4 separate regions of the Homo sapiens genome follow, and regions 1, 2 and 4 are each linked to region 3. The links come from fine-mapping of genetic effects on gene expression. A gene starts in region 3. Each other region holds a variant in brackets. All regions are shown on one strand. Distances are from middle to middle.

Region 1 (8,108 bases), 40 kb before region 3:
AATTATGGAAGTATGTTTCCTTTAGAAGCAAAGCTACAGTTAGAATTTTGATTCCATGTGTGATGCAAGGAATACAGTCCCCAGTTTTAAGATTGTTGCTTTAAGTGTTTCTTACCCACTGTTTTGCATGAATCTCCTCCCTCCCTGCATTTCCTTATCAGTGCAAAGTGGCTTAGCATCACCTATCTTTGTATTTGATAAATCCACAGATGAATGAAAGCTTCTGTGGGACCAGATTCTATCTTCCCTCTATGTGCCCCAAGATATCTAGCATCGTGCCTGCTTGGAATGTTCTGGGCGCTCAATTTAGCCATAGATCATACCACTGATCTCCATAATAAACTTTAAGCAACTTATGGAGATCAGACAAATGCACATAAAATGTGAAATGACCACAAAAGGTAGCACAGCAAGTCTTGTGATAATCAGGAAGTAGTATTCCAGGTGCCAAGGCAGGTAGACTGATGTGACTGGGATGACGGGGGTCGGGGGGGAGGATGCAAGGTGGAGGGGTGTGGACCTTGAGCTGGCCTTGCAATATGGCAGGACTTGGGATGGGAGAGGAAGGGATTCCTGGTGGAGAGCGCTGGGAGCACAAGCGCAGGTGGGGTGTGGAGATGGGCATGGGGCAGGTGCAAGGCAGGGGTCAGAAGCCATGCTGTGGCTCCCTTGTCCCGATCCAAAATAGTGTCCTCATTAGTCTTCCACCCTTGCCCTCCCACCATGTGTCTATCCTATTCTCCACAGACCAGATACCTAGAGAGATCTTTAGAAAACATAAACCCAAATATATTTATTTCCTATGTGAAACCATAACTTTCTATACCACTGAAACGTAAATGTTTATTCCTTTACAGCCCTGTGTTTTTCTTCCCCCGCCCCCCACTCCCCGCCCCGCCAGACAGAGTCCAATTCTGTCGCTCAGGAGTGCAGCAATCTCAGCTCACTGCAACCTCTGCCTCCCAGGTTCAAGTGATTCTCCTACCTCAGCCTCCCGAGTAGCTGGATTACAGGCGCCCATCACCATGCCTGGCTCATTTTTGTATTTTTAGTAGGGATGAGTTTTCACCATGTTGGCCAGGCTAGTCTCGAACTGACCTTGTGATCTGCCCGCTTCGGCCTCCCAAAGTGTTGGGATTACAGGCGTGAGCCACTGCACCCGGCCGAGCCCTGTGTTTTCTGCCTCTGCGTGCCCCTCCAGCCTTGTCTCAAGCCTCTCTCTACCTCACTCATATTCCAGCCGGACTGGCTGTGGCTTAGCAGCATTTGTCTTGGTCATGCTTTCATTGAGTTCCCATTTTACCAGTCTCACAACTTAGAGCATTCTGCAATGACGAAGGTGATGAATGTTTCCTGGTGACAGAAGCTGTACTTTCTAAGCCCATGGCGATCTGGCCATCATATGTTGGTAAATGCTTACCAACTGGCTCTCTGGGGGAAAAAAACAACAAAAACAAAAACCCTGCTTCACAGAATTTGCTGATTTTTCTGGTGTAAATAAATAACCCTACCATGGCCAATTTCAGGCTCCAGGGTATCACCACTGGAAGTGGAGTTGGAATGAGATGCACACAGCTCACAGTCACCTCTGGCAAGCCGGTAGGAGCCAGAGGTCCTGCACACCACCGACAAAACACAATGGAGAAGAGATGTCTTTTGTTTAAATTTAAAAATGATATTTGCTGGTTCAGAAGACAACCTCTGAATGAAGTAGAAAGAAGAAACTTACAAAGCCTTAAGCACTCCAGCCTGTTTTGGTAGGGGGTGTAATTAAGGTGGGAAAATTAAAAATGTAGTATAGCATCTGTTTCCATCTTTAGTTTTCCCAAGGACTTCTATTTTTACTTTCAAGTAATAACTGGGTTACAGTTGATAAGCAGTTTGAGACATAAACAGGATTTACGGACTCTAAAGTATTCAGACATTTGCTTGGTGGGAACCAGTTGTTACATTCAAGTTCTCATCATTCCCTCATGATATGCTGGGGAAAATACCCAGTGATTCCTACAAATCCCATCTATTGGGGGAATAGTTGTCTGTGAGTTCACTGAATGACTTGGCATTCAGGAAATTTAACAGGCCTCTTAACTGGAGATAAGATAACCCCAAAGACCAACACCAACCATCTTTATTAAGTTGCTTAGAGGCTGTTAGTAAAATATATAAATATATAAGGCAATAAGACAATTAACAGAGTATGTGGACCATCTGGGTTTGTGTTGAAGGGGTCCAGAAAGAAAGTGTTCAAAGAGATAAGTTTTGAAGGGAGAACATTTAGCCCCCAGATGCAGATTTGTGGTATGCAGAGTGAGCACATGCCAGGGCAGTGGAACCAAAGAATGGCGAAAAGTCATGAGGCAAAAATGAGCAGAATGGGGATTTCTAAAGTAATTCTTTCTTACACTCTTTCCTTTGTGTTACTCTGTTAATAATCTCTCTTTGATGTAATCAATGGCATTAGTTAACATTTGCTCAGCACACGTTTCAGGCTTGGCACCAAGTGTCTGGTTTTGTCCTTGCCATGAGATAGGCACTATTTATGATCTATTTTAATATCTATTTTAGTGAAGCTACTGAGATTTAGAAAAGAGTTTATTTAACTTGCTGTAACAGTTAGCTTTGCTGTGTAACAAATCACCCCAATTTCAGTAGCTAAAATAACATCCACTTCTTTTTTTTTTTTTTTTTTTGGAGACAGAGTTTTGCTCTTGTCACCTAGGCTGGAGTGCAATGGGACATCTCGACTCACTGCAGCCTTCACCTCCCAGGTTCAAGTGATTCTCCTGCCTCAGCCTCCCAAGTAGCTGGGATTACAGGCATGTGCCACCATGCCCAGCTAATTCTTTGTATTTTTAGTAGAGATGGGGTTTCACCACATTGGCCAGGCTGCACTCCTGACCTCAGGTGATCCTCCCGCCTTGGCCTCCCAAAGTGCTAGGATTACAGGCGTGAGCCACCGTACCCAGCCCAACATCCACTTCTTTAGCTCATGATTCAAGGTGTTGTCAGTTTGAGCTGGCTCACCTGGGCAGCCTCTCCCTGCTGGGCCCGCTCATGGCTCTTCAGTTCAACTATAGCGAGGTGAACAAAGTTAACCTTGTCCAACTTTCTCATTTTGGGGACCTTGGATGAGAGAGTTGAGCTCCACTCCACATGTTCGCTCATCCTCCAGTTACCTAGCCTTGGCCAGTTTATGGGGCATTTTGCAAGGTCCCAAGAAAATGAATGGGAACAGGCAAGTCCTCTTGAGATTAAAATTCAAAACTGGCACATTGTTCGTTCCACCACATTCTACTGGTCAAAGCAAGACATAATGCCAGAGCATTGTCAGGAGGCAGGGAAATAGACTCCATAACTTTATGGAAGTTGCTGTAAAGTCATTCAACAAAAAGTTGGAGAATTGTGGCCACTTTTGTAATCTATAGCACTTGCTGAAAATCACAAGACTATTATGGACAGGGAATTCAGGTCCAGGGTCATCCGTCTCCAAATCTCACTTGATATACTTTGGTTATCTGTCCCTTTCCAAATCCCCCATGTTGAAATGTAATCCCCAGGGTTGGAGGTAGGGCCTGGTGAGAGGTATTTGGATCCTGGGGGAGGATCCCTCATGGCTTGGTGCCACGATAGCAAGTTTGTTCTCATGAGATCTGATTGTTTCTAAAAGTGTGGCACCTCCCGACTGCCCTTGCTCCCACTCTGCCATGTACTGTGCCTGCTCCCATGCCACCTTCCACCGTGAGTAAAAGCTCCTTGAGCCCTCCAGAAGCCAAGCAGATGCTGGTGCCAGGCTTGAAGAGCATGCAGAACCATGAGCCAAGTAAACTTCTTTCTCTATAAATTACCCAGTCTCAGGTATTTATTTGGCAATGGAAAAATGGCCTAACACATTGCCGTTTCATCACAAAACTATGCCAAATCCAAGCAGTTTCTCTATTTTTCACTGGCCTCCTGATAGGACCACACCCATTCTATGTGGCATAATTTACCATCTGATCACCAGCTCCCTTTAATTAGACATGTACTTTCAGCATAAACACACACATGCCCACAATCTTATTACCTTCTCCAAGTTTCTGCTCATATTCTTCTCTTGCTTGAAATGACCTTTCTCCCTATTCACATTCTCTTCATCCATGATAACTTGGTTCAGGTTTTAATTTCTATACAAAGCTGCCTGTGACAGAGACTGCTAACTAACACCCAGTAATCTGGCCTTTCTCTCCTTTTACCTTTTAGTAACAGAATTCCCCTACGTTTTGGCTTGCAATGCA[TGCTTAGCCAC/C]AGAATACATTTCCCAGCCTCATGTGCAGCTTAGTGTGTGTGGCCATTTTAAAACATACTGCAACTTCTTGTTACCTCTCCCATAAAAAGGTGAAGTCTAATTCTTATGAATATGGGTCAGCCATAGTGATTCACTTCTAATGAGGAGAATGTGGAAGAAATGATACTGCATGACTTACAAGCCTAGGTCATAAAAAGTGGTACATCTTTACTTACTGTTTCTCTGACATGTAAGAAGTCTCCCTAGCCAAAAGATGCCATGCCAAATAGACTATGTTAAGGAGGCCACACAGAGAGGAAAGCTTGACACACCCCAGAGGTACCATACCTCAGCTGTTTGTCTTCCCAACCTCAGCCATAAGATAAGTCAGTGAGTCTCTAGATTATTCCAGCCCTTAGCTTTGAATTACCCCAGCTCAAGCTGAGGGGAGCAGAGCTAAGTTCTCCCTGCTAAGATCTGTCCAAATTGCAGTTTCATGAGCAAAATAACTTGTTTAAAATGATCACTAAGTTCAGTGGTGGTTAGTTTCACAACTGTAGAGAACTGGACATATTTTGGCACTCTAAACATGAGGTGCTGCCATAACCAAACCTAAAGCATGTGGCTTTGGGACTGAGCAGTGGGAAGAAGCTGGACTTAAGAAACATGTTAGTGAAGCATCAAGGACTTCAAAGAAATCATTAGCAGAGGCTTGATGACCCTCTGGAGGATTGCTGGTGAGGACTTACAGGAAAGTGAGGAAAATATTATTGGAAGCTGGAAAAAGAAAACCTTCGTGATGCAACAGCAGGAAGTTTAGTAACACCGTTGCCTGTGGCAATGTGGGAAATAGAAAAAGCACCTAATGAGCTAAATGTTCCAGCTAAGGAGATTTCCAGAGAGTGTGTTGAAAGTACCACCCAGTTTCTTTTTGCTATAAAAAAATAGACAAGCTAAAGCAAGCTAAAGAAAGAACTGTTAAATATAAAGGAGCCAGGACTTTCTGAGTTGAAAATAAAACTGATTTTCATTCTTAGTTTCTCCAATTGACATAGTGATTGCTAAAATTAAGAAATGGTTTCTGGAAGATATCAAATTCAGGGCACTGTCAGGACAACATAGTCTAAAGATGAACCCAAAGGTGCAATTGTAAAACTCTATGTGACGTTCTTAGAATTAAAATCAAAGTTCTCTAGAGATCATCAGGGTAGATCCTTTCCACCACACAACTTGGGCTTCTAAGAATCTTTTTTTTTTTTTTAAGGCAGAGTCTTGCTGTGTTGCCCAGGCTGGAGTGTAGTGGCACAATCTGGGCTCCCCACAACCTCCGCCTCCCAGGTTCAAGCGATTCTCCCACCTCAGCCTCCTGAGTAGTTGGGACCACAGATGCATGCCACCATGACTGGCTAATTTTTTTATTTTTAGTAGAGACGGGGTTTCACTATGTTGGCCAGGCTGGTCTTGAACTCCTGACCTCAGGTGATCCACCTGCCTCAGTCTCCCAAAGTGCTGGGATTACAGGCATGAGCCACCATGCCTGGCCAAGAATCTTAAATGAATTATTCCAGAGTCACCTTTCAGGGATCCCAGTGTAGAAAGACTTATCTTGAGATACATAGATGAGGCTTTTGTTTAATGGAGTGAATTCCAGTAGGTTACATAGTAAACCCAAAATGTTGTAAGAGGATTATATGGAACAAAATTTTGACAGGCAGGACACAGACTGAAAAATCTAATCTGCTGCAAACATGGCTACATTTTATAGAAAAAGAAAAGTTGACTCAGAGGATATATCCAAGAAACCATGGAGGATGATTCCCAGTTTCCCAGCTGCTGGAACTGAGCCTTCATCAAGGCACTAGCCATGTGTGTCCAGCTGGATTTCAGAAGTGCCATGGACCAAGGAGTTCTGTGTGCTTCTTTCTCCCCACTGTGTGAGTTAGAGTGTCTATAGCAGTTATCTTATGCCAGACCCACCACTGCATGTGGCATCAGCAGGACAGAAGACTTGTCTCCTTAGTACATAGATCTTCAGATCAAGAAAATGATCTTCCATGATCTACACTCGAGGAACTACCCGCAAGGAGCCTCACCCATGTGGGAACATGATTTAGATGACAAGACCCTGGGCCTCAAACCTAAACCTGATCTCTTAATAGATACAACTTTGCAAGTCCTGGGATGAAGCAAGTGTATTTTGCATGAAGGAAACATGTAAATAATTTGGGCTAGAACATCAATTGTGCTGCTTTTAAAATACATCCACAAATTCTGTGATACTCCTCCCACGAAAAGGTGGAGTCTAATTGTCCCCTCCTTGAATATGGGGCAGCCCTAGTTTACTCACTTCTGACAAATAGAAGGTGACAGGAAAAATACTGTGTGACTCACAAAGCCAAGTCATAGACGGTGACACCATAACTTTTGCTTGTGTCTCCTTCTCCCTTGGGACATGTGCTTTTGGAGCCCTAAAGCCACCATGGTGAAGAGAAAGATACCCAAGGATTCCCAGCTGTGCCAACCCCCATCTATTTAAGTCTTCCAGGTACCAACCACAAGGCTCTTAACATGATTCCAGTCTCCAGCCTTCAAGCTGCCTCGTCTGATGCCAAGCGGAATAGAGACATGCTATGCTCACTGAGGAGGTTCCAGCCACTTCAGCAAGCCAGAAAGAGGAAGAAAAGAAAGAAATGGAAAAGATATACAACTGTTATTATTCACAGCTGATATGATGAAGCCCCTAGCTTATTGGCTGATCACGTTGGATTTTAAAACTCACTCAAAACCGCTCAACTACATGGAAACTGAACAACCTGCTCCTGAATGACCACTGGGTACATAAAGAAATGAAGGCAGAAATAAAGATGTTCTTTGAAACCAACAAGAACAAAGATACAACATACCAGAATCTATGAGACACATTCAAAGCAGTGTGTAGAGGGAAATTTATAGCACTAAATGTCCACAAGAGAAAGCAGGAAAGATCTAAAATGGACACCCTAACATCACAATTAAAAGAACTAGAGAAGCAAGAGCAAACACATTCAAAAGCTAGCAGAAGGCAAGAAATAACTAAGATCAGAGAAGAACTGAAGGAAATAGAGACACAAAAAACCCTTCAAAAAAAAAAAAAAAATCAATGAATCCAGGAGCTGGTTTTTTGAAAAGATCAACAAAATTGATAGACCACTAGCAAGACTAATAAGAAAAGAGAGAAGAATCAAATAGACACAATAAAAAATGATAAAGGGGATATCACCACCGATTCCACAGAAATACAAACTACCATCAGAGAATACTATAAACACCTCTACGCAAATAAAGTAGAAAATCTAGAAGAAATGGATAAATTCCTTGACACATACACTCTCCCAAGACTAAACCAGGAAGAAGTTGAATCTCTGAATAGACCAATAACAGGCTCTGAAATTGAAGCAATAATTAATAGCTTACCAACCAAAAAAAGTCCAGGACCAGATGGATTCACAGCCGAATTCTACCAGAGGTACAAGGAGGAGCTGGTACCATTCCTTCTGAAACTATTCCAATCAATAGAAAAAGTGGGAATCCTCCCTAACTCATTTTATGAGGCCAGCATCATCCGATACCAAAGCCTGGCAGAGACACAACCAAAAGAGAATTTTAGACCAATATCCCTGATGAACATCGATGCAAAAATCCTCAATAAAATACTGGCAAACCAAATACAGCAGCACATCGAAAAGCTTATCCACCACGATCAAGTGGGCTTCATCCCTGGGATGCAAGGCTGGTTCAACATATGCAAATCAATAAACATAATCCAGCATATAAACAGAACCAATGACAAAAACCATATGATTAT
Region 2 (8,108 bases), 20 kb after region 3:
TTTTTGTTAAGATGGGATCTTGCTGTGTTGACCAGGCTGGTCTCTAACTCCCGGCCTCAAGCAATCCTCTGGCCTCCACCTCCTGAGTCACTGAGATTACAGATGTGAGCCACCACACCCAGCCTGTTTTCTTCTTTTTCTGGAGATCTTACTGGTCAAACGTCAGACTTCTTGGATTGCTCCTGATTTTCTCAGTTTTTCTATTTTCATCTCTGTCTTCTGTTCTGCTTTCAGAAAGCTTCTTGTATCTTTTGCATTCTACTGATTTAAAATTTCTGGTCTCATTTTTTGTTCCAAGACATTTTCCTCATTTTTGATTTTTTTTCCTTTTAGATGCGTTTGTTTTGATTCTTAGATTTTTCTCTTCTTTAATAAAAAGGAGAAGATAGTTTATTCGAGGTTTTCTTGTGTGTGTTCTGAGTTCCTTATTTCTGTGTATTTTGTGTCTGTTAGGTGTTGAAGGCTTTCCTGAAATATCTAAGGGGTCCTCAGATTTCCTCTTCCTGTTTCACAGTAAAGGGCTCCAAGGCTGAGCGCAGTGTGCTGGGCTGAGGAGTGGCCACTTCACAGCGTTCACTGTGGGTCATCAGCATGCTGACCTCTCCTGTGGGGGCGGGGCAGGGAGGGGAAGCCTGACTCCGAGTGTTCTGGGAGCTGTGCCAGGGAGATGATGAACACGTGGGGGTCCCCATCAGAATGTGCCTGGCATCAGCTCCCTGTTCTCAGCGTGGTTCCTCTGCCCTGCTCTCTTCTGTCCTGTTACCCCCGGGGTCTGAAGCCCTTCCACTTTAATTTTTTCAGAGAACAACCTCCTACTTCTGTCGGGGTGGAGGAGAGGTCCTCTCTCCTGACCTTGCTGGGTGGGTAGTAAGATCTGAAGTTCTAACTGTTCATCATACAGATTTGTAGGCTGGGCACAGTGGCTAACGCCTGTAATCCCAGCACTTTGGGAGGCTGAGGTGGGTGGATCACCTGAGGTCAGGAGTTCAGGACCAGCCTGGCCAACATGGCGAAACCCTGTCTCTACTAAAAACACAAAAATTAGCCGGGCTTGGTGGTCTGCACCTGTAATCCCAGCTGCTCAGGAGGCTGAGGCAGGAGAATCGCTTGAACATGGGAGGTGGAGGTTGCAGTGAGCCGAGGTCACGCCACTGCACTCCAGCCTGGGTGACATCTTCACACCTGTCCTCGCCCCTGCCTTCTCCCAGTTCCTTCCACCCCCACGCTTTCCTGGGACCTGCAGCTCAGGGGGACGTGCTTTTGGGGGCCTTACCCTTGCACCCTTGCAATTCCCAGCGCTCTTTCTGCTGCTCGCTCAGTTATCACCCTGGAGCTTGCTTTCCATCTTCCAGATGTTTGTTGATATCCCCACTGTTGTCTCCTTTCCTGCTTGCTTTTAGCCTCATGCATGCATATCTTTGTCAGTATTTTTACTTTTGATTCTGGCGTGGTTTGGGGAGGAAGAGGAGAAAGATATGCATGTTCAGTGTGCCATGCCTGACCACAGGGCTGGCCTCCCTACCTGAATGCTGCTTCCAGCAGAGCAGAGAGCAGTCTGTTGCTTCAGGCATGTATCCCAGCACCGTGGTATATGGTAGGTGCTCAGTAATTGAATGGGTAAAACTTTAGTGACACCCTCTGCTTTTTCATCCACTTCCTCATGATTCCCATACTTTTGGGCAAGGTATCCAAGTTCTCTGCTCACCTCCCTTGAGAAGAAGAATTTCTCTTTTCCCATTTCTTTTCCAAAATACTGTGTGGTTGTGATAATTCCTATCCAATCCAAGTGCAGCACTTTATAGATTTTAAATTAAAAATTGGCGTGATGATAATTTATTACTGAGTAGTAATATGTGTCTAGATTTTGAAAAGTTTACTGATTAGAATATTAGTGAATGGAGTATATTTGGTTCTAGCTAGTCTCACTAAAGCATGAGAATGGCATTTCATTACAGCATTTCTTTTTATTTGTAAAAAATTTACTTATTTTTTCCTTTTTATTGAGACAGGGTGCTGCTCTGTTGCCCAGGCCGGAGTGCAGTGGTGTGATCTTGGCTCACTGCAACCTCCACTTCCGGGCTCAAGCAGCCCTCGCCCATCAGCCTCCTGAGTAGCTGGGACTACAGGTCTGTGCCACCACACTCAGCTAATTTTTAAAATTTTTTGTAGAGATGGGGACGCACTCTGGGGTCTCACTCAACTCCTGATTGAGCCAGCCTGGGTAACATAGTGATCCTCCCACCTCTCAAGTGATCCTCCCACCTCAGCTTCCCAAAGTGCTAGGATGGTGAGCATGAGCCACTGTACCCAGCCTGTAACATTTAAACAAATAGAGCATGATTTGTGAATGAAATGCCCCAGTATCAAACTCTAAATCGTAGGTGTCTTCAGCCTACCTTGATCTGACATTGAACTTTAACTGTAGTGGTCCTCCAAGATCTTGGTGGGGTCCATCACTTACAAAGGATGGTTATAAAGGATGGTTAAAGGTGGTTCTTAGTGTTTAAAATCTCTTGGGAGAGATGACATGGAAAGCAGCAACTAGTTTGGTATGACAAATATGAGTAACAGGTATCCAGGCTGCTGCTACTATGGGAAGGAACAGAAGTCCTCCAAATCTGGTGACTGCAGGGAGGTCACACTTTTGTGAGTTGTGAATGCTAAGTAGAAGTGGTTTGGGTGAATCAACGTAAGCAGAGCCTTCCAGGCTGAAGGAGTCACAAAGGCTCCGAGGGTGACAGTGAGTAACACGGCCCTGGTTTGTTTCATTAGCAAATACTCACTGAGAACATGGTAGGTAGAATCACTGTGCTAGACACTGGGGACACGGTGTCTTCTTCCCTCATGGAACTCACAATGTGGGGAAGAAACTCAGGTCAGATATCCTTTCCAGCACATTCTTTTAAGTGCCATGCTAGCGGTATGTAGGAAGGGCAGCCATGGTGGTTGTAGTCTGGAAAGACCTAGAAGAAGTGACATTTTAGCTGGACGTAGAGAGTCAGTAGGCGTTGGCCAGGTTGCTGGGGTGTGCAGGGGAAGGATTTGTTCCAAGCCCAAGGGAGCAGCATGTGTGAAAGTCCAGAGGGAGGAGTGTGGACTGCCAAAAATGTGCACAGAGTTCCGTGTGGTCGGGAGGTGGGGAGATGGAAGGGGAGGGGGTGAGGCAGGGCAGGAGGTAGGGCACGGTGAAGAGCCTGGAACTGGAGTGGAGGGGTTTGGGTTTCATCCTGAGTGCAGTCAGAAGCAGGGGCTGCCCAGTTCCCTCCAGTGTAGTTCCTTACCCCTGGGGCAAGGAAGTCGTGCCAGCGGTCACAGGAGGTGAGGCTGGAAAGGAAGCAGGTCCAGATCTTCAGGGGCTTAGGTACTAGTTCCAGGACTGGGACCTCTTTCAGGCCTGGAGAACTGACGGGCCATTACAAACAACCCCTGGCACTGATGTGATTGGTTCTTTGTAGAAAGCACTTGAGGGGCAGTGAGGAGGGGCATGTGGGAGACATGTTGGAGGCTGAGAGTGGGGCAGCAAGGGGAAGTCTGTTTTCTATAGGAAGCCACTGGTGGGGTCACTCTTGTGGGTGGGGGAGGACCAAGGGCAGTGCAGGTTGGAAGTGCCCTTCTCCCTGGGAGGGTTCTGGAGGTGTGGCTGACTTCAGGCTGAGTGTGGGGCCTTGCCCAGTGCAGAATGCCATCCTGAGAGAGACTCCTGGACTCCCCAAGGGTACTCAGAGTCCAGCAGAGAAAGGCAATGTGCTTTTTGTGGCACCAAGGTTAGGGGTTAAGATTTATGATGCTTTTGGATTTAATGATGAAGGTACAGTGACAAATCAGTGAATAAGGATAATGTTACAATTCAGAACTAATGGGTGTGGAGCACTTATCCCGTGTCAGATATTTTAGGCCGTTCACCTGTAGTGTCTCTTACTCCATATACATAACAACTGTTGGAGGAGGTAGGTGTCGTTACTAATATTCACAATGACACTGAGGCACAGAGAAGTCAGGTGACTTGCCAGGGGCACACAGCCACACTTGTGTGGTTGCAACTGTTTTACACCTGGGTGGCCTAATTGTAGTTTATCCTCTACTTGCTGGGTTATTTTGCCCATTATATGCATTTGCCAGCCTACTTCTTCAGGATTCTTTCCACGTCCTTTGGTGTAGATGCATTTTTCTGTTGTCTGACAAATGTCAGTAGTCTAACTATTGACTGATGACTTCTAGTACATAGGTAAGCAGAGAATCAGCCAGACTCCTGTCCTATTGTTTCTCATGCTTTAGATCTTCAGGGCAAGCTTAAAGCATTTCTTTTTGCCTTTTGTACTTCCAAGGCCCAACATCTGCTTGCGTATAGAAGCTGCATAAGATTTTTGTGGTCCATTCTCTAGTTGGACCATTCTTTAGGTGTGACACAGGGCTTCTTTGTCACGTGTCTCCAGGCACTCACACAGAAAACAGCGTGAGTGGCATTCCCTGGAGTTGCAGTGAGGTTGCCTGGCTGGATGTTGTGGGCTTTGCTGAGTTTTGCCCTGGAGGGTGCGTGTCAGGCCAGGTAATTGGCCTGGCTTTGTGGGAACTGCCGGATCCTAGAATAGGCTGTGCTTAACTGAATGAAAAGAGAATTCATACTTTGGTCTCAGCAGGACAACTTTCAAAACAAATATTCTAGTCTGTGATTGACCAGGATGCATTGAGTTGAGAGCGTCACTACTGCTTACATTTTAGGTTTGGCTTCGAGCGTAATGCTTAATGCTACATGGGTGCCAGTTTCCCCTTGTCAGCTTCCAAAAAGCCACTCTGGCAGCTTTTGCATGTGTTTTGCCAGTCTGCGTAGCAGGGAAAGAAATGTGCCTCTGGAGTGGCAGATTTCAGCAAAAGAATCATATTGAAATCATATCCCAGAGCTGCCCAGTTCTTTGAAGGCACTAGTCTGTTTTCAGTATTTCAAACGCATCATGGAAGATAATTATTTCTATGATCAAGTTGCACCAGCTCTGACCTAGTAAACCATATTATTTGTTTCATTGGCAGTTAAAACCTTTCAAAAGAAGGCATCC[A/G]TATGATGAAATGAAAGGAGAGGAAATCTTTGCTCCAGTTTAACCACCTCGTGTTACAGATGAAGAAACTAAGTCCCAAGGTCCCTCAGCTGGTGACATTATGACCCATATCAGAGTCTCCTGACCTCTTTTTTAAACTACATGCACTAAGTGTTGAGACAGTGAACATGATGAAACTTAGGAAGGCAAAATAATAATGTTCCCTAGTGTGAGAATCACTAATTATATTTTGCAGGTCAGTGTGGGAACTTTACTGTATTGGCCCAACCATGTCTTTGGGGTCTTTTGAGGGTCTGGAGTATTGACAGATCTCCTCGTAATCTTCCAGGACCCTAAAAAGCTCTTAGCTGTGAGATTCAGGCCGTTGTCTCAGACTTCACCATCCTTTCTTGCCCCCCTGACAAATGAGCCCGGGTTTGCTAAAAGTCACTTTGATATAAGGAGGCAGTCAAGGGCTTCCTCTTGCTCTTAGTAGTAATAGCTTGTATTTGATCACATCTACTTGAAACAGGTGTTTAACATTCAGCTAATGGTAGTGTAGCCTTCTTAATGACGAGAGTAACTCCTTCCAGAAAACTTTTCATAGGAAGAATTTTTGGCAGTTGAAAATGCATTTACTATTCCAAGGAAACATTTTGTTGTATGCTCGTAACTAACAAGTTATTACTTGTGTCTGCTAAAACAACACCAAGACCTGTTAAAATGGACATGGTCACTTTAATATGGTAGTTATATTAGTAATCATAACACAACTCAGTGACTTTTTTGGTTAATAAATTCTCTCTGAAAGAGCTGTTGACCTCTTTTAATTAAGCTCTTCTGTAGCTATTAAACATAATACAGGGTGCCTACAAACAAAACATACATGCACTCGGTGCTTAAAAAAAAGATCTTTCTGGTGAAATAAAAACAAAATATAAAAACAAGGACTATTAAAGGGGTCTATTAGAACAGCAAGGTTTAGGGGGCCTCGTGTACAAGACTGCGCATGACCGCCATCCTGACGGGACTCTCACCATGAGTCAGGAAATGGCTTCATGGTTTCTGGTCTGGGGCTCAGTTACTTATGAGTTGCATAGATCCAAATACCATCTTTGCACATGGAGAAAATGGCTCATAAGCTGAAGGAAGGATATTATATGAAACTCTCTTGCAACTGAGTTTCTGTAACCTGGATGGGTATATCTTGGGATATTCACTGCAGTCTGGAAACCTTACTTCATCTCTTTCTTCATTGTTTTAGAAATGAATGTATGTCTTCCTGGCATACCTTCTGAATTTAACTTCCAAATACCTTCTGGATAAATTGAAAACAACACCTTGCATCATTATGTCATCTGTCACATCAGAAACCTTTAGTGAGAGACTTTTAGCCAGTTTGTGATGGTAGTCTATGAAAAATGCTTTGTGTGGTTGTGTTTTGTTTTTTGTTTTTTTTGGAGTCTTGCTCTGTTGCCCAGGCTGGAGTGCAGTGGTGCAATCTTGGCTTACTGCAGTCTCCGCCTCCTGGATTCAAGCGATTTTCCTGCCTCAGCCTCCCGAGTATCTGGGACTACAGACATGCGCCACCACGCCCAGCTAATTTTTGTATTTTTAGTAGAGATGGGGTTTTGCCATGTTGGTGAGGCTGGTCTTGATCTCCTGAGTTCAGGTGATCCACCCGCCTCAGCCTCTCAAAGTGCACGGATTATAGGTGTGAGCCACCACGCCCAACTGAAAAATGCTATGTTAAGCGTTTAACTTTTTTTCTTATAAAAGTTGTCTACATATTTAAAGATATTTAACAATGACATTTCACGTTTGGCTCATTTTCATTCAGTCACATTTAAAAATCTATTCTAATACACTTAGAACTTGTAGCTTTCATTTATCAAAATGAAAGTTGGGCATCAGGAGAAATTTTGATTCTTAATCGTATCACTGAATACAGCCAAAAGGTTCAGCACCCTTGTACATCGATGCACTGTATGACTGAGAAGTTTAATTCTGTGTACATGCCAGCTTTTGTTTCCGATGGTGCCCATCAAATCTCTGCTGTGTGTAGGTTTTGCCTGGTACAGACAAGTTGTATCTTAAGATTGTGAGACTGTGATCTAATACATTTTGCTGTGGGCCTGTGACATTGAAAAACAGTGGGTGTTGGCCAAAGAACCAATCATGGGCTACCATCCCCAGAATGTCAGTGATGATCTTTGGCTTTTTGTTGGAACTACCAGGTGTCTAGAAAGAAGGCCAGACATTCGTTGTATTCGGATTTGGTGTGGCTTTCACAGTAAACATGGCTGCTTAGATTTGACGGAGGTGCATCTGCTGCAGCTCCTCTGGTGATAGGGACACATGAGTCAGCAGAGCACCATTCTCTTTGACCTCAGCCACACCATTGCAACATGACTTTAGTATGGGGCAAATTAGGAGAGCTAGATTTACTTCTCTTGGTTATCAGAGGCCAGGTCTTCTGAAAGAGAAGAAATAAGATTTGTCTAAGCAGATATCCAAGGGCCATTCATGTTATCTGATGCTTCCCAAAGGGTCTTTAATAAAAATGGTATAGACATTTTAATGTTCCCCATAGTTTTTTTTTTCCCCCAATTTGGCAAGCTGTCATTATTATGATAATGTGCTTTAAGGAATTTATGATTAATGATTACATTGATTACATGCATGGTTAATTAATTACATTAATTGAATCATTTGTACAACAAATACTGAATGAGCAACAGCAAACAAAAAAGTATTTATTGAGTGCCTGTGATTGGCATGCAGAGACCTAGTGCTTGGGTGACAGTGGTGAACAGGAGAGATGGTCCCTTCTCTCACAGAGCTTGTAGTATGGGGTAGGGAAGGACAGACAGATGGGAAACAAATGGCCAAGCAAACCAGCATACAAGTGGGAGTCAGAAGGCGTGCTCTGAAAGGAAAACACATCACTCCGGGGGAGCAGTGGGGTGACCTAATTTAACAGCAGGCTGCTAAGGAGACTGGGTGGAGTTTTCCTTGCTGAGTGTGACCACTGGGCATGGGATGGTGAGTCAGGGGTTCACTGTTGTGCCTTTGCCG
Region 3 (8,108 bases):
AATGATGCAGAACCAGGACCATCAAAGGGGGTGGGGGGAAGAGGTTGCAGCAAGGACCCGACAGTGCTTTGTCTGCTGGTTCAGATTCCTGTTGGGAAGGGGTTGGAAGTTAATGTCCTGCAGTCACCCCTGTGGATCATAGGTGTGCGTGTGTTTGTGTGTGTACCTGGGGATAGACAGGTAGGCTTCCTTGGGGGATATACTCATGTTGTCATGTGACCTCCGTTCTTTTCAGTTAACCATTTTGAAGCCTTAAAAAAAAAACTTCTTTTAGGTATTAGGGAGCAATACCCCAACTGATATCTGGGTGGCCAACATCTTGGCCACCATCTTTCTGGTAAGCACATCCCTTATGGAATGCTTGTCAAACACAGACTATGCTAGTTTGAATATTTCCGTCTGTATATGCACAACAGACATTCAACATAAGTAGAAATAGTGAATTCCTTCTGTGAGCCAGGCACTGGGCTGGGCCTTGGAAGCCAGGTTAGAGACCCGGGAGATGATCTTCCTTCCTTTCCAATTGCTCTGTGCCTGCTGATGCTGTATGATACTCTTATTTATCTGTGCTTAGAGTGAACTATCCAGGTTTTCTTAGTGAGAAGAAAATTATGGAAACTTAGGAATAAGGAGCAGAGGATATAGCAAGGGGAGGAGGGTAGAATTAGTTTAATAAAAGTACCAACACAAAAAAAATTCTATCTGCAGGCTAATAAACGATACAACATATACACAAGTGTATTAGTTCATTCTCATGCTGCTATGAGGAAACACTTGAGAGTGGGTAATTTATAAAGAAAAGAGGTTTAATTGACTCACAGTTCCGCATGGCTGGGAAGGTCTCAGGAAACTTACAATCACGGCGGAAGGCATCTCTTCACAGGGTGGCAGGAGAGAGAATGAGTGCTGAGTGAAGGGAGAAGCCCCCTTATAAAGCCATCAGATCTTGCAAGCACTCAATATCACGAGAACAGCATGGGGGAAACCGCACCCATGATTCAATTACCTACACCTGGTCCCACCCTTGACACGTGGGGATTATTACAATTCAAGGTGAGATGTGGGTGGGGACACAGAGCCAAACCATATCAACGAGCCTCCTTTTGTTTAAGGAATCATGGAGCTACTGTAAGATTCTAATATATAATATTGTAGAGAAAAGAAATTTCCCCAAAATATTATGACTAGGGGGCTTTTCCCCATCATTCTAAGTCTTAGCTTGATTTTGCCCTAGGAGACTTCCTATAGTGGGAATTAATTATTCATAATTTTTCCTCTCCTATTACAAGCTTTCCACATACTCTTAGATGAGAAAAGTGAGTGGCCTCTGTTAGAGAGTTCTTATGTGCATTTGGACTTTCTTTACTGGAGCTGTCTCATTTTCTAAACTCTCATTCAGTAGCTAGAACTTTTTTTTTTCTCAGACACGTTTCCAGTTTCCTTTTCTCAGATATATATTGTCAAATCATCTAGCTCACTAGTGTTAATCACTCTGTTCCTAATATATAGCAATAAAATTTCAGAAGAGAATCTTAGTAAGATTACTTGCAGGAGTTCAAGAATGTGGCGTGTTCTTAAAACTAGGGGACAAGGTTGATTTCAACCATTGTTAGCATTATGTTTCTGTAATCTTAGCCCTGAATAAATTACTCAAGCATCACAAAGATCATTAGACAAACAACAAAACAACAACAAAATCCCACCCAGCAGCACCATTTGTATGTCTATGCCAGTGTCTACTTCTGTCATACAGTTTGTAAGTATTAGAGGTCGGAGGTGAAAAGGAAAGGTTAATTAGCCCAGCCTTTTATGCAAAACAGGTTGCATAGCATTTTCTCCATAGTAATTTTGAGAGAGAGAGAAAGGATAGACTTTACAACACATAGCTGTGGGGAAGGAGGTTTATTATTAAACAGAGATAATAAATAAGTGTTGGAAACCACACACAGCAACTGGAGCTTAGCTTTTATGTGTCTTGGTTGCCAGCAGCTTTTACTACTTCAACAGATCCTGACAACAATAATTAGAATTCAAGGGAAGCAGGAGGAAGGTGATTAATCTTGCAAACCCATTTCTGGTAGCACATCAGCACTGGTCTGGGGAACGGGGACACCTGGTTCTTCCTCTCTCCTGCCCCATGTTCTCCACACTGGCTGCAGCACACATCTGTCTAGTGACAGATTTTAGAATAGCAAACCCTGGGCTGTATCAAGCGCCAAACAAAGGCCAAATGACACAATAAAAGCATCATTTATCTTTCAAAAACTTCTCCGCTACTGCCAAGAGGGAGGACCCACACCTGGGAAAAGATTGTCTCTCTTATATGGAAGAAACCTGAATTGTTTCCACGTTGCTTTTTCCTTGACACCCAGGCCACTTTCCATCGGGTTGTCAGGATACTCCTAAGAAGGGGAGTCGGAAATGCCAGATGTTCTGTATCACCTTTAGTTAAAAACCAAGCCTCCTGTTACTAGAGACCATTCAATGTCCACTATTCCCTTTGGTGAGTTACTTAAGGAACTGTGCGTCTCCACCTGCAACCCCATGCCTCCTCTCCTGTTGAATTCCCAACAGCAGTTATTGCCCCTGTCCCCAATCCCCACACTAATGGGGGCCCTACAATTTAGGGCAGAGGCCATTTATTACAAAACGCTCTTGAAACCTGATCCCTCCACTCCTCCCCTAATTTTGGATGCACAGTTTAAGTAAGGAATCTCTTAGCACTTAGCGAAGGCTTCTTCGCTGTGGCAGATATCACAATTGTAACTGGGCCCTCATCAGACTGGGAGCTTCCTGTGGGTGGAAGCTGCATCCACAGAGCTTAGCAATGCTTTGTGTACTCGGTAGGTGCTCAGTAAGCCTTTGCCTGGGCTCTGGGAATATAACTCCTTTGAAGTACAACATACAAGCAGTAAAGTGCAGACACCTGCAGTGAATGTACAGATCAATGGATTCCACGTGTGTATACACAGAGGTTTACAATGGCCACCCAGAGGAGCGTTACAGAACATTCCCCTAGAGACTCCCTTGACGCAGGGAATTTAATTGCCCTCCCTTCCATCCTGTGCAGGCAGGCTGGTTGCCAGTAAAGGGATATGAGATGCCCTGATGCATCCGCAGACAGAACCCTTAGTATGGGGGGGAAGGACCTGTCATTCTAGAGTAAAAGTAAGACCAGGAAGATTAAAGAAGACAAAAATTTAAAAATGCAAATGGTGAAAAGCATAAACAACTATTTTCCTCTCTCCCCACACTCACCCAGAAGCACCGGGGCCAAAGAGAGGGCATGGGAGGTCTCAGGATCCCCTGCCGCCCCACCACTGCCCTGATGCCCGCTTGTGACGCAGAGACCGGAGTGGCTCTGAAATTACTGTCTTCAAAGCAGGCCAAACCTTGCTTGACACGTGCAAAGTTCCAATCTCTTGCTTCTCAGCTCCCCGCACGCGCGGGCCAACGTGCACTTCTGAGCCAGATCACCTAGCCACAAGGAGGGGGAGAGAGGGGGAGATAGGAGGAGAGAGGGGAAGATAGGGGGAGAGACGGGGGAGAGAGAGGGAGAGGCAGAGAGAGAGAGAGAGACAGAGAAGAGAAAGGAAGCACCTGAGACAGAGAGAAAGAAGAGAGAGAAAGGAAGCAGCTTCCCCCAACGCTGCGGCCTTGTGTTTCCTCCCGTGTCAAACGAGAGGGCCCCAAATTGACCCCAAATGTTTTTTCTTCCTTTCTCAATCCAACATTTATACCAGCACGTTATTTCCAGGATGCCCAGGACCTCTGCTATGGTTGTGCTGCTGTCCCTGCAAAGGCGCTGGGGATGGCCGAGGTGGGGGATGTCTCTGGGGGCTGAAATACGCTGCCAGGGGAAGGGGCGCCCCGATACCACCCTCAGTGGCTGCTGGTTGGGCGACCGGTGGCCCTGGCTTGAGAAAGTGAAAATGTCCAATCTATTTTGCCTGGAGCCTTGGGTCTCTTTTGGATACGGAACCGAGCAGCAGTCCTCCACTTCGCCCTCTCCCGCCGCTGCAAGGGAAAAGGTCGTTTTCCTCGAGTCCCGGAGAGGCCCTCCAGGAACCCAGAGCCCCCCGGGGACACCGCCCAGCTCCCGGCGCCCGGCCCCGCCCCTGCGCGAACTCGGCCGCACCCACTTTCCCGGGCGGCTCCCCCTCCGTGGCCTGTGGCGTCACAAGGCCCCCAGCCGCCTGTGCCCCGCGGTGCGCGCCCCGCTCCGGGACCTGCCGCCACCGCCGCCCCGCCCTCGGCGGCACCCACACCCAGGCGCGCCCGCGCGCGCGCCCGGCCCCGTCCCTGTCTGGAAGCACAGCTGAAGATGGCGAGCCCGGCGCCTCCGGAGCACGCCGAGGAGGGATGCCCGGCTCCTGCCGCCGAGGAGCAGGCGCCGCCGTCGCCGCCACCGCCCCAGGCATCCCCCGCAGAGCGGCAGCAGCAGGAGGAGGAAGCGCAGGAAGCTGGGGCGGCGGAGGGCGCGGGGTTGCAGGTGGAGGAGGCCGCGGGCCGGGCGGCGGCCGCGGTAACCTGGCTGCTCGGGGAGCCGGTGCTGTGGCTGGGCTGCCGCGCCGACGAGCTGCTGAGCTGGAAGAGGCCGCTGCGGAGCCTGCTCGGCTTCGTCGCTGCCAACCTGCTGTTCTGGTGAGAGCTTGGGCAAGGTGGGGGCGCTGAGGAGGGCAGGTGACCTTGGGGCGCCCGGGGCCCCGGGGACCCAGTGCAGGGGGAGCCCGCGGGACACTGCGGAGGAAGAATTGTCAGCCCTGCCCCACTTTCTCGGCCACCTGTCTCGAACAGGTAGACACTCACCGCAACTTTCCTCCGGACGCACGTCCCTGTGAGCAGTTGTCGTTCTCCGTGTGCGGATCCAGCCTCAGATGCGAGGTGGTCGGCCGACCCTCAGGCACCTGCACCTACAGGTGTTCCCATCGTGCTTGAAAACTTCGCCCCTGCTTTCTAAAACTCTGAGGTCTTGACCTGCTCGCCCAAGCTTGCCGGAGCAAACGTGCTTGAACGTGTCTTGGTTCTTGCAGCCCCAGCAGGCATATCTGGACCAGATTAGGTACCCGTTCAAAACGGTGCCGCATTCATCAGTCACCTGAGATGGGCCCTGAATGATTTGTTTTTTCCTTCCCCTGGAGCGTTAGGTTTACTGTGTTTACTCCCTGATGAGAAAACGGGAGGCAAACAAGCAGGTGGAGTATGCCCAGCACCCACCCCCGGGTGTGCACAGTGTGGAAAACAGGCATATTTTTAGGTGAAGTACAGGGAGAACACACGGGAATGCTCAGCCCCTGAGCAACAGGTTTGTCTCTCCAAAAAGCGCTCTTCAGAAAGGCCAGGGAAATGTCTGTCTCCTTCGTTGAAAGTGGTGTCCTGTCATCCGTTACCACGCTATTGAGGGCGGAGAAAAACCTTCTTTGTTTGCTAAGTGTCCTCATAACAAACATGACCTACACAGTGCAGAATAATCAGACTCCGGTAACAGATACCTTGTTACAGGACAGAGATTTCTGAACCTTAAAGTTGAGAAATAAATAAATTGCACAAAATAGACAGCCTGTCATTTTCTAGGTTAACTTGAGCAAGATGAATATTTTCCTCAGATCTCTGCTAGTCCTGGTGTTTTCTCTTAAAACTAGCTGTATCTTGTCGGAGGTCCCTGAAAGTGAATTAACTTTGGATCTCTTAGGTATCTGTGTTTGGAATAGAGTTTATTCCAAATCTATCTTATTATGGAGTGAATGCGAGCACTCAAATAAGAAGGACATATTGTCTTATGCTAGATTGGGCAATAGTCTAATAGTCTTAGGGCTGTGTCTCACTAATGTTTACGATGTTTTTAACATTTTATTTCTTTTTCTTTTCTTTCTTTCTTTCTTTTTTTTTTTTTTTTGAGATGGAGTCTCACTCTGTCGCCCAGGCTGGAGTGCAGTGGCGCGATCTCGGCTCGCTGCAAGCTCTGCCTCCCGGGTTCACGCCATTCTCCTGCCTCAGCCTCCCGAGTAGCTGGGACTACAGGCGCCCGCCACCACGCCTGGCCAGTTTTTTGTATTTTTTTTAGTAGAGACGGGGTTTCACCGTGTTAGCCAGGATGGTCTCGATCTCCTGACCTCGTGATCCGTCCGCCTCGGCCTCCCAAAGTGCTGGGATTACAAGCGTGAGCTACTGCGCCCGGCCTTAACATTTTATTTCTTAATTTTAAATTTTATTTCTTTAAAAAACTAATACAGTCTCACAGTGCAAAAGTTTAAAGGTACAAAAGGGTAAGCATTTTGAAAATCTCTTTCTCATCCCAGTCCCTGGCCGCCCAGTTTCCTCACGGAGGCCAGCAATGTTGCTAGTTTCCTGTGTCTCTTTCCAGATAGTGCACATTTCAGCAAATACACCATATTCTATGCAAATTGTGGAATAACATATGAGCTCTTCCTTTTCCTAGTATTTCTTGGTGATTGCTTCCTTGTTCTTTTTCAGCTGCTTCAGAATTCTATTGTAAGGATGTCTCAAATTACTTAACCTGTCTCCTACTGAGGCAGTAATGTTTCCAAGCTTTTGCTATTTCAGCATTATAGCTAATGACCCTGTACATGCATCATTTTGCATATATGCAAGTATTTTAGAGAACTTCCCAGAAGTGGAATTGCTGGGTCAGAGGGCATGTGCACTTGTAATTTTGATGGCTGTCACCATATTGCATGCAGCTCCTTAGGGTTCTAACAATTTATACTCCCACCAGCAATGTGTATGACTGCCTGCTTTGCCACACTCTTGCGAAGAATATTTTATGAAACTTTTTGATCCTGCAAATCTGATAGGTGAAAAAGACTATCCCAAAATGATTTTATTTTGCAGTTCTCTGTGATTGAGCATTTTATCTTATGTTTAAGAACTACCACATTTACCATTTATCAGCATTGTTTGTTTATAAATAACCTTTGTCTATTTTTTCAAGTAGGCCAGTGTTCTTTTCCTTATTGATTTATAGGAGCTGTTTTTATATTAAAGACTTTAGCCTAATTTCTGTAACATGAGTTGCAAACTTTTTTCTATGATGTTTTCTTTAATGACACCTATTGAAAATAATGTTTTTGCATAAAATAATTGAAAGGCATATTTGATAGTATCCAGGGGTGTTTTCTTCCATCCATTTTATTTATACTGACGGAGAGGAAAACATTGGCCAGCCATTCAGCCTAGATACAGCCTTCTCCTTATCTGTTTTATTTCATCTCCTGTTTGTGGCATCTGCATTCCATGCATGTATTTTCTTTGACAAAAATGACTGTCCTGTTCTTTAAGTTCAGAATTACTTGTTGCTTTTGCATTATAATTCATTGGAATTTATGACCCATTTATTAATGTCATTAAAATTTTGTTTTTTTTTCCCTTTTATTTGTTGCTCTGGGGGTTAAAATGATTTTCAAGGACATTACGTTTTCTTTAAATAATGTATTTCTTCTCAAATGATCTTAAATTATGTGATACTCTAACCTTCTGTGTCTTGGGAACTCTAAAGCACTGTATTTTCTATGAGAAAAAAAGATCAATTTTAAAACTGTGGGGAACCCAACCAAATCTGTCTTAAGCAATGGGATGTTGTTTTCACTTTAATTGATGTATTTCATTTTTGTGGAAGTAAACTTTTTAAAGATATATTTTTGAATGATTTAGCACCTGGCATTAGCAGTGGGTTTTAGGAGTCTGAATTTGACTCAAAAGCTTCAACATTTATTACCTGCCCATTATCTGCAAGATTTTGGGCAAAAATTGTGACACAGCCGTAACCAATGGGTATAACTAAAAGTTGCATGAATTAAGTGTGGTGGAAGATTCAGGAAAGGATAATTCATTTTGATATGGTTTTGGGGAACGTGGTATTGTGGATGGAAGAGATTGTGGGGTTCTTAATAAGGAGATCATGCTTAAACCTCAGTGGATAAGAATGATTTGGGAGATCTAGTAGATGATCAAGAGCATTCTAACCCTGAGGAATACAATGAACACAATAGCATCTTGAAGGTGTACCTAATATTTCAACCACTACACAGTAAACAGATGCAATGGCAGCATGGGCTGGTAGAAAATGTAGTGGGAGATAAGGTTGGCTA
Region 4 (8,108 bases), 120 kb after region 3:
GAACTATGTTTCCTAGGCTCTCTTGCAGGTAGGCATGGCCATGTTTCTATGTTCCAGCCAGTGGGAGGTGAATGGAAGTTGCACAGGCAACTTGCAGGCCATGACTTTAAAGAGAAAGGGGAATTATCTCAGCTTCTTTTTACCCCTTCCTGCTGGTGGCAATGTGGATGGGGCAAGGTCCATGGGGTGGCAGTGTGATTTGACAGTGTCTGAGCAATGAGATGGAAAGGGCCTGGGTCTCCAACATTATGGATGTCCCATATCAGCCTGGGACTTCTATGCTCTGCTGTGACATAAGGGAGAAATGAACTGCTCTCTTGTTTAGACCACTGTTGCTTTGACATTTGATATGATAGGAAAACCTATATTGTAATACATATAACTGTTTATGAAAATTAAGTCAAATGCATTGGAGAGAGTAAGAGTAAGTTGCTAATACTACTTTTTTTTTTAAGTGTGGACAAAACTAAAAAGGTTTGGGGGGATGAGCAGAAAAATTTAGAATGATCCTTTACTTGGGTTTGACTTCTGTCATTAAATCCTTGCTCCTTTTTTAAATAAATAAAACTAGAAATCATGCCTAATACATCAATTTATTTGAAGCCCTAAATCAATTGGCAATTTGATAACCCCCTCAGTCCCCGCACCTAAGTGAAGATTTATTGGATTGAATCGAATACCACAGGGGTGGACTGCTAGGTTTGTTAGTCCCCAGTCAGCACTCAACTTATACCCTGAGTCTAAGAATATTCATACTCATCTATTTTTTTTTTTTGAGACAGAGTCTCGCTCTGTCGCCCAGGCTGGAGTGCAGTGGTGCAATCTCGGCTCACTGCAAGCTCTGCCTCCTGGGTTCATGCCATTCTCCTGCCTCAGCCTCCCGAGTAGCTGGGACTACAGGCACCTGCCACCATGCCTGGCCAATTTTTTGTATTTTTAGTAGGGGTGGGGTTAACACCACATGGAAGCCACCAAGGCTTATGGCTTGCACCCTCTGAAGCAGCAGCCCGAGCTGTACCTTGGCCTCTTTGAGCCATAGCTGGAGCTGGAGTGACTGGGACATAGGGAGCAGTGTCCCAAGGCTGTTCAGGGAAGAGGTGGCCTGGGCCTGGCTCACAAAAACCATTATGTCATCCTAGGCCTCTGGGCCTGTGATGGGAGGGGTTGCTAGATGGTCTCTGAAATGCCTTTGACAATGGGGCTTTTCATTGACTTGGCTATTTGCACTTGGCTCCTTTTTACTTATGCAAATATCTGCAACCTGCTTGAATTCCTCCCCTAAAAATGGGCTTTTCTTTTCTACCACATGGCCAGGCTGCAAATTTTTCAAACTTTTATGGTCTGTTTTCCTTTTAAATGTAAGTTCAAGTTTCACATCATTTCTTTGCTCACACATATAAGCATAGGTTTTTAGAAGCAGCCAGGCTACATCTTGAACACCTTGCTGCTTAGAAATTTCTTCCACCAGATACCTAAATCATCACTCTTTAAGTTCAGAGTTTCACAGGGCAGGGGCACAATGCAGCCAGTTGCCTTGCTTAAGACATAGTAAAAGTGACCTTTGCTCCAGTTCCCAATAAGATACTCATTTCCTTCTGAGACCTCATCAGCCTAGTCTTCATTTTCCATATTACTACCAGCATTTTGGTCACCACCATTCAAGTCTCTAGGATGTTCCAAATTTTCCTTCATCCATCTGTCTTCTTTTGAGCTCTCCAAACTCTTCCAACTTCTGCCTATTACCCAGTCTCAAAGCTGCTTCCACATTTTTATTTATCTTTACAGCAATGCCCCCACTCTTCAGTACCAATTTTCTCTATTAGTCTGTTCTTGCACTGCTATAAAGAAATACCAGAGACTGGGTAATCTATAAGGAAAAGAGTTTTAATTGGCTCATGGTTCTGCAGGCTCTACAGGAAGCAAAGTGGCTTCTGCTTCCGGGGAGGCCTAAGGAAGCTGCCAATCATGGCAGAAGGCAAAGAAGAAGCAAGGCACATCTTACATGGCCAGAGCAGGAGTAAGAGAGAGCAGGGGGGCGGTGCCACACGTTCTTTAAACAACCATATCTCTTGAGAACTCACTCACCATCATGAGCACAGCACCAAGGGGATGGTGCTAAACCATTCATGAGAGTCTGCCCCCGATTCAACCACCTCCCATCAGGCCCCACCTCCAACACTTGGGACTACAATTTGACATGAGATTTGGTGGGGACACAGATTCAAACCATGTCATTAACTTTCTACCATTTTTTTTGTGTCATCTATAATCCCAGGTTCATACCCATACCCATCTTCCCTGCATACTGTTGTTGAATATTATATTTATTAATTTACCATTAATACATGTACTATTTACATAATAGCTTATTCTCAAAATCTGCTATTGAGGGAGACTGAGGGCAAGTTTAGCAAGCATTGTCATTTTTTTCTGTGACTGATAAGGGTCTGATTCTCTTAGTAAGAGTGTATTCCTTTAAAAGCCTCTGATTATTTATGTGAACATAAATGAGAGATACACTCTTTAAAGGACTAAGTTGGGAATATGACCTAATTAAACAGCCTAGCATCTTGACTGAATATCTTAATGTGCGATAGTCACTCCAAGTTTGCCATCTTCCAGGTTATTGCTTTTTATTACAAAGGCTGATTCTACAAACAAAAATAATTTGAATTGGCCTTCATAATAAAAGCACTTTGGAGAAACTTGAGAATTCAGTGTTTGAGTTGTATATACCTGGTGCTCAGGACCAGTGTGGTGGGTACCATCTCTAAAAAGCAAAATTAGGAACAATATTGTTAATGACTTTTTTTTTTGTGCTGTAGGAAACATATTTTTTAGTATCCTCACAGGTTTCATATAAGTAGGCCAAATGTTGCAATGCAGGGAAGGGACATTTACTTTTGACTCCAACTACAGTAAACCCTGGGTTGAAATTCATCAGAAATTGTGGATCTTCAGTGGAATGCAAGAAAAGACTTATATCTAAATGAGCCAGCCTGCTTCACAATAACAGTTTTGTTTTCCTTGAGGAGTGTTTCTTGACTATCTGATATTATCTGTCCTTCAGGGATAAAGTAGAAATATTTTCTGCCCTCAGGGACAGTGATTGAAGCAAATCTTGGCATTCACAAATGAAAGGGTGTTGAATCTCCTGCAGGTCTCAAGTAGGTGCTTGTCCTATGCTAGTAATGGAATTTGCATTACTCATGCCCTGGGCTTATGAAAGTCTAGTTATTAAAATGTTAAAATTAAAAACGCTGAAAAATGACTTATACTTGGCATCTTGTTCATAGAAACTTGAAACTGTAATAAATACTATGATGGGTAGTTGAGTGTCAGCCTCCCAAATGATCTAGGTGGATTGGATAATTGATGATCACCTGGAGAAGTAGCAGT[G/A]CTCAGTTTGAGATAGGAGGTGGAAAGGGTCAATCGCAAAAGTAAGTAGCTGATCTCTGAGTCGTTTTAAACTTGATATAAAAAAAGGGAGAGCCCCAAATAGAACACTAAGTTGCTCTGAGGAAGATGGGGCTCTCCGGGCAGAAAGCTTCTCCAGGCAGAAAAAGCCAGCACTCACTGGCGCCTTCTGGTCCCTGGCCTTGGGAGGAGTCGCTCACGTGGCTAATTGGCCTGAGAAAGTGAACGCTTCAAGTTGAGTGCGATGTAATTTCTTAATCTTGTGTTTACTCTTTTTAATCCTCTAGTTGACAAATCTTATTTGCGTTGTCATGGTTCTAATTCAGTGAGTGCTCATGCAGAGAAATATATCTGTTTTTATTTTGTTTCTCTGCCTACATACAGTCATATGCAAGCACCTACACACAGAGGAACATAATAAGTATCCACAGGATTAAAAAAAATTCTAACACATTACACTAAGAAATGTTAAAATCTGTAACCAGATACTGACTGACCTTTCTAAGAAAAATTCGACAGGAATTAGCATCAACAGATGTCCACTACCAGTAGAGAGCATGAGACCCTTAGTCACTAGCTGAGAATGAAAGGTCTCCAAGCCAAAGCATATTTATAGGTGTGATGGTTGCAGCAGCTGTTTGTCATGGTTGCCAGGTGACGAGTTATAACAAATCCTTTTTTTTTTTTTTTAAGTTTGTCAATATGGAATGGTGACTTAGCAAACTTTCTGAAAAATATTGTTTGGCTTCAACTTCCATTTCTTATAAATTGAAAATAAAATAATGAGTAGTGTGAAATAATGTATACTTTCTGGAGGTATTATAACAGAAATCAAAACATCTTTGGAAATGATTATTGCACTATAAATTCATAAGGATGTGAAAAAGTTAAAACCTAACAAGAATGGTGTGTGTGTGTGTGTGTGTGTGAGAGAGAGAGAGAGAGAGAGAGAGAGAGAGGACAACACTGTCTGAAAATGTTCTCCAGCGGGGTGCAGTTGCCCTACAAAAACTTGAAAAGCAAAACCAAAAAGGGAGTCATTTTTCTCTGATATTTCATGTGAAGGTTGGATATTCGTCAGGGCCCAGTTCTGTTCTCTACTGGTATCACAAATGCTGGTGGGCCATGTGGGAACAGTGCCCGCAGGAGATACTCATGGATCCAGGGATCCCCAAGTCACACATTAAGGCTCAAGTTTTGCCCGCAGAAATCTCATATGAAATACCGATTTTCAGTTCCAGAAAGTCTTGGAATATATGAAGCATCTTTCTTTCTTTCTTCCTTTCTTTCCTTTCTTTCGTAGAGACAGGGTCTTGCCATGTTGTCTAGGCTGGTCATGAACTCTGGGGATCAAGGGATACTCCCGCCTTTGTCTCCCAAAGTGCTGGGATTACAGGTGTGAGCCACTGTGCCTGGCCCGTATTTCCTAATTAGCTAATTTTGAAGGCATTTTAACTGCCCATTTGCAAGAAAGAACAAAACAAAACTCTTCCCTATAGATGACAGTTGTTTTCTAGATTTTTAATAGGACTTTTTGTCTATTATTTTGTATATTTTTATACATATGAGGGAATGCATGCTAATTATTACCAACACGTAATGTATAGAAACATTCGGATAAGTGAATTAAAAACATGGTGCCACCAAATAACCACTGTTAATTATTTTTGATATTTTCTTCTTTGGATGTTTACTGTTTATATTCATTCAGTATTTTTATGTGCCTCATAGATGTCAAGCTCTGTTAGCTACTGAAGACAGAGCACTGTCCAAGAATTCCTTCATGGGATTTAAAGTCTCATAGGGAGTCAGTGTTACAAATGTCATAAATTAATTGCAATTCATAGTTGCCCTGAAAGAACGTTACCAGATGCGACGGTCGTGGTCGGTAACCAGGAGATCTGCTGTGTTTCAAGCCCTTTTCAGCCTCAGTTTTCTCTTGGGTAAAATGGAGATAACCCTGCCTTGCAGGGTATCGTAATGGGATGGGGTCCTAGGGGGATCATGTGGAGGACATTGGGACAGTGCGGGCAGAGTGCTTAACATAGTGCCTGGCACACAGGGAGAGCTTAGCAGATAGTTGCCATGGTCATGGTTATTATGGGCACGTGTTGTAATTGAAGTTTGTGAAGTTGGGTTCATGATTATGGAATCACTTTGTGGGTACTAATTTAGGAACAGCTGGAGGGGTTCAGAGAGAAAATAAGAATCTAGATGCCTTAGGACCAAGGAGTTTCACCTGGGAACCAAAGCCGCTTTTTAACTATTTTGATTTCTATTTGTGTAGCTTGGCATTTAGGGATCCATAATCCTGCCTGTGGCACTGCCCTAATGTGCTTCCCTACTCATCTTTGCAATGGTCCCCATGTTCCAATCCGGAGAGTGTTTTTTCTGTATCTCGCCCCACATTAGGAGCATTCCCAGTTCTATGCATTACTTCCCTATTCCATTGTGGATTCATTCTGTGACCTTGAACAAGATAGCTAATGTATCTGGGCCTCAACTTTCTCAATCTGTTGAACAGGAATAATAAACAGTAGTTCACTCACAGGTTGGTTGTAAGGATTGAAGTAAGTAGTAAGTTTATAAGATAGTAAGTTTATAAGATGCTGTTCACTACCTGACCCCTGGTGAGTGTTAGCTATTCTTTTTTATGGTGCCTGTAACCCCCTTTATTTGAATTGTTAACAAACTGCCTTTGCTTGATTTATTATATAACCTAATTGCATCTTTCCTTTCTACTACAAATTGCCACCTAAATAAAACTGTCATAGTAATCTGTGTAATCTTATAACTCTTTTTTAATAGTTACGTTTATTCATAATTTAAGATATTTTAAACAATTTTCCATTGCTCCCACTGAAACATGGGACACTTTATTTTGTTTTACAAATGCCAGAAACCAGCTTAAGGCACAAGGGAACTGGCTCCAATTATGGGGGATGTCCATGGGTGGATTTGCTTTGCACCTTGCCTTTTGGGCCCAACAGGACCCAAGAACTCAAACCTGACTATCAGGATTCATTCATATTCTCTCCCTGCCTCCCATATACTTTCTCCCTCCCTCTCTTTTTCCATCTACTCCAGGTTTCCTATCTCTGGTTGGTAATTATCTCCTCAAATCTAAAGCTCAAGAAATATGTGAAAATATTTTAGCTTTGATATATTAAAAATATAATTTTTTGCTTTCAAAAATAACTGAGTTGTAAAAACACTTTTAAGTTCATTAGTATATGCTAAAACATTGTCCTGTAAAATGTACAATAGTGAAAAGATCTTACATTTAACAAGCTCTCCTCATATATCCAATCCCCAACATAGTTTTCAAATTCATGTATCTCCAATAGCCCTAGATACAATTAAATGCCATTTTTTAAAGGTGAGTTTCATGTATCACCAGTGTGTGTAGGCTTTGCATCATTCTTGGGTCACATGTACACTTTAACTTATTGGTTACAGGCTGTGCCTTAGTCAACCCTCAGTCCCAGAGCCAGGAATGGTGACAGTTAATGTACATTCACTGCATATTTATTAAAACGAACAGAAGTTAAATGATAATGAGATAGTATTTCTTCTATGCCAAGATTCATTTTGTTGCAGCATTATTTTTTCTAGTGCTCAAAGATACTATTGGTGAAAGGGATGAAACAGGCTGCTAGCACATGTTCTGTCTTACAGAATTACAATCTATTTTTAAAGAGCACAAGAGTGTCCTATTTCTTAGTCTTACAGAACCCCCTAATGGAGAATACTGTGTGCTGCATTCTGAAACTGCCAGCCAAGTGCATTAGAAATTCCATTATGCAGGCATTAAACTACACAAAGACAAATCTTATAATATTTAAACATTGTTTTGATAACTATATTTTTTAAGGGAACAAAGGTACATGATAATTTAAAAGATACACATAAAAGTAAAATAAGTGAACTGCTTCACATCCCAGTTTGACTGAGTTATTTTGTTCATAACAAAACTCACCACTTTGTATCCTACAGTTGGCGGTTGAATCACTTAAAATCAGTTTGATCCTTTTAAGGTCTGCTTTTTTTTTTTTTTTTTTTTTTTTTTTTTTTTTGAGACAGAATCTCGCTCTGTTGCCCAGGCTGGAGTGCAGTGGCGCTATCTCGGCTCATTGCAGCCCCTGCCTCCTGGGTTCAAGTGATTCTCCTGCCTCAGCCTCCTGAGTAGCTGGGACTACAGGCGCATGCCACCAGGCCTGGCTAATTTTTGTACTTTTAGTAGCGATGGGGTTTCACCGTGTTGGGCAAGATGGTCTCGATCTCCTGATCTCATGATCTGCCCACCTCGGCCTCCCAAAGTGCTGGGATTATAGGCGTGAGCCACCACGCCCGGCCTAAGGTCTGCTTTTAAGACTTGTTAGGACCAGAGCCGCATTTAGTTTAGGACTGATTATTCTCTGCTACTGAGGCAAGACCCTTCTGAGTATTCTACCCATGTCTGTGAATTTTGAAGTTTTTCGGTCTAGTTGGTGGGACTAGGTGTCATTCTTGGCCAAAGACACTGTTCCTTCTAGTCCTTTCTGATGGCTCTTTCCTGGCCTCCGGGCTCCTCACACGCCTGTGCCAGCAAAGCCTCAGCTGAAGACTCCAGGAATCCCCCACATCAGACCTCTCCCTTTATCTCCCTCTGTACTGTGCTCTACTCTCTGGCACTGGGTCCTGCAAACTCT

The links. PIP is the estimated chance that this variant, and not a neighbour inherited with it, causes the effect.
Region 1: its variant is fine-mapped to the expression of RETREG1 in whole blood (TOPMed, PIP 0.97).
Region 2: its variant is fine-mapped to the expression of RETREG1 in whole blood (INTERVAL, PIP above 0.99).
Region 4: its variant is fine-mapped to the expression of RETREG1 in whole blood (INTERVAL, PIP 0.96).

Annotation. Positions count from the first base shown.
Region 1 is chr5:16,653,651-16,661,758 of GRCh38, reverse strand. No RefSeq gene overlaps it. Among named protein-coding and RNA genes, the nearest start is that of RETREG1, 41 kb to the right of the region's middle. RefSeq lists a silencer at 4,905-5,199. The variant TGCTTAGCCAC/C (reference allele first, on the strand shown) is at 4,275.
Region 2 is chr5:16,593,101-16,601,208 of GRCh38, reverse strand. The region is part of intron 1 of RETREG1 (reticulophagy regulator 1); the gene reads left to right. Among named protein-coding and RNA genes, the nearest start is that of RETREG1-AS1, 19 kb to the left of the region's middle. The variant A/G (reference allele first, on the strand shown) is at 5,052.
Region 3 is chr5:16,613,188-16,621,295 of GRCh38, reverse strand. RETREG1 (reticulophagy regulator 1) reads left to right here and starts at 4,299. Exons shown (of 9, transcript NM_001034850.3): 1 at 4,299-4,644. The coding sequence starts at 4,325. It overlaps RETREG1-AS1 (RETREG1 antisense RNA 1), which reads right to left and starts at 5,370. Exons shown (of 4, transcript NR_109946.1): 1 at 4,810-5,370. RefSeq lists a silencer at 4,056-4,545.
Region 4 is chr5:16,488,468-16,496,575 of GRCh38, reverse strand. The region is part of intron 3 of RETREG1 (reticulophagy regulator 1); the gene reads left to right. Among named protein-coding and RNA genes, the nearest start is that of ZNF622, 27 kb to the right of the region's middle. The variant G/A (reference allele first, on the strand shown) is at 3,400.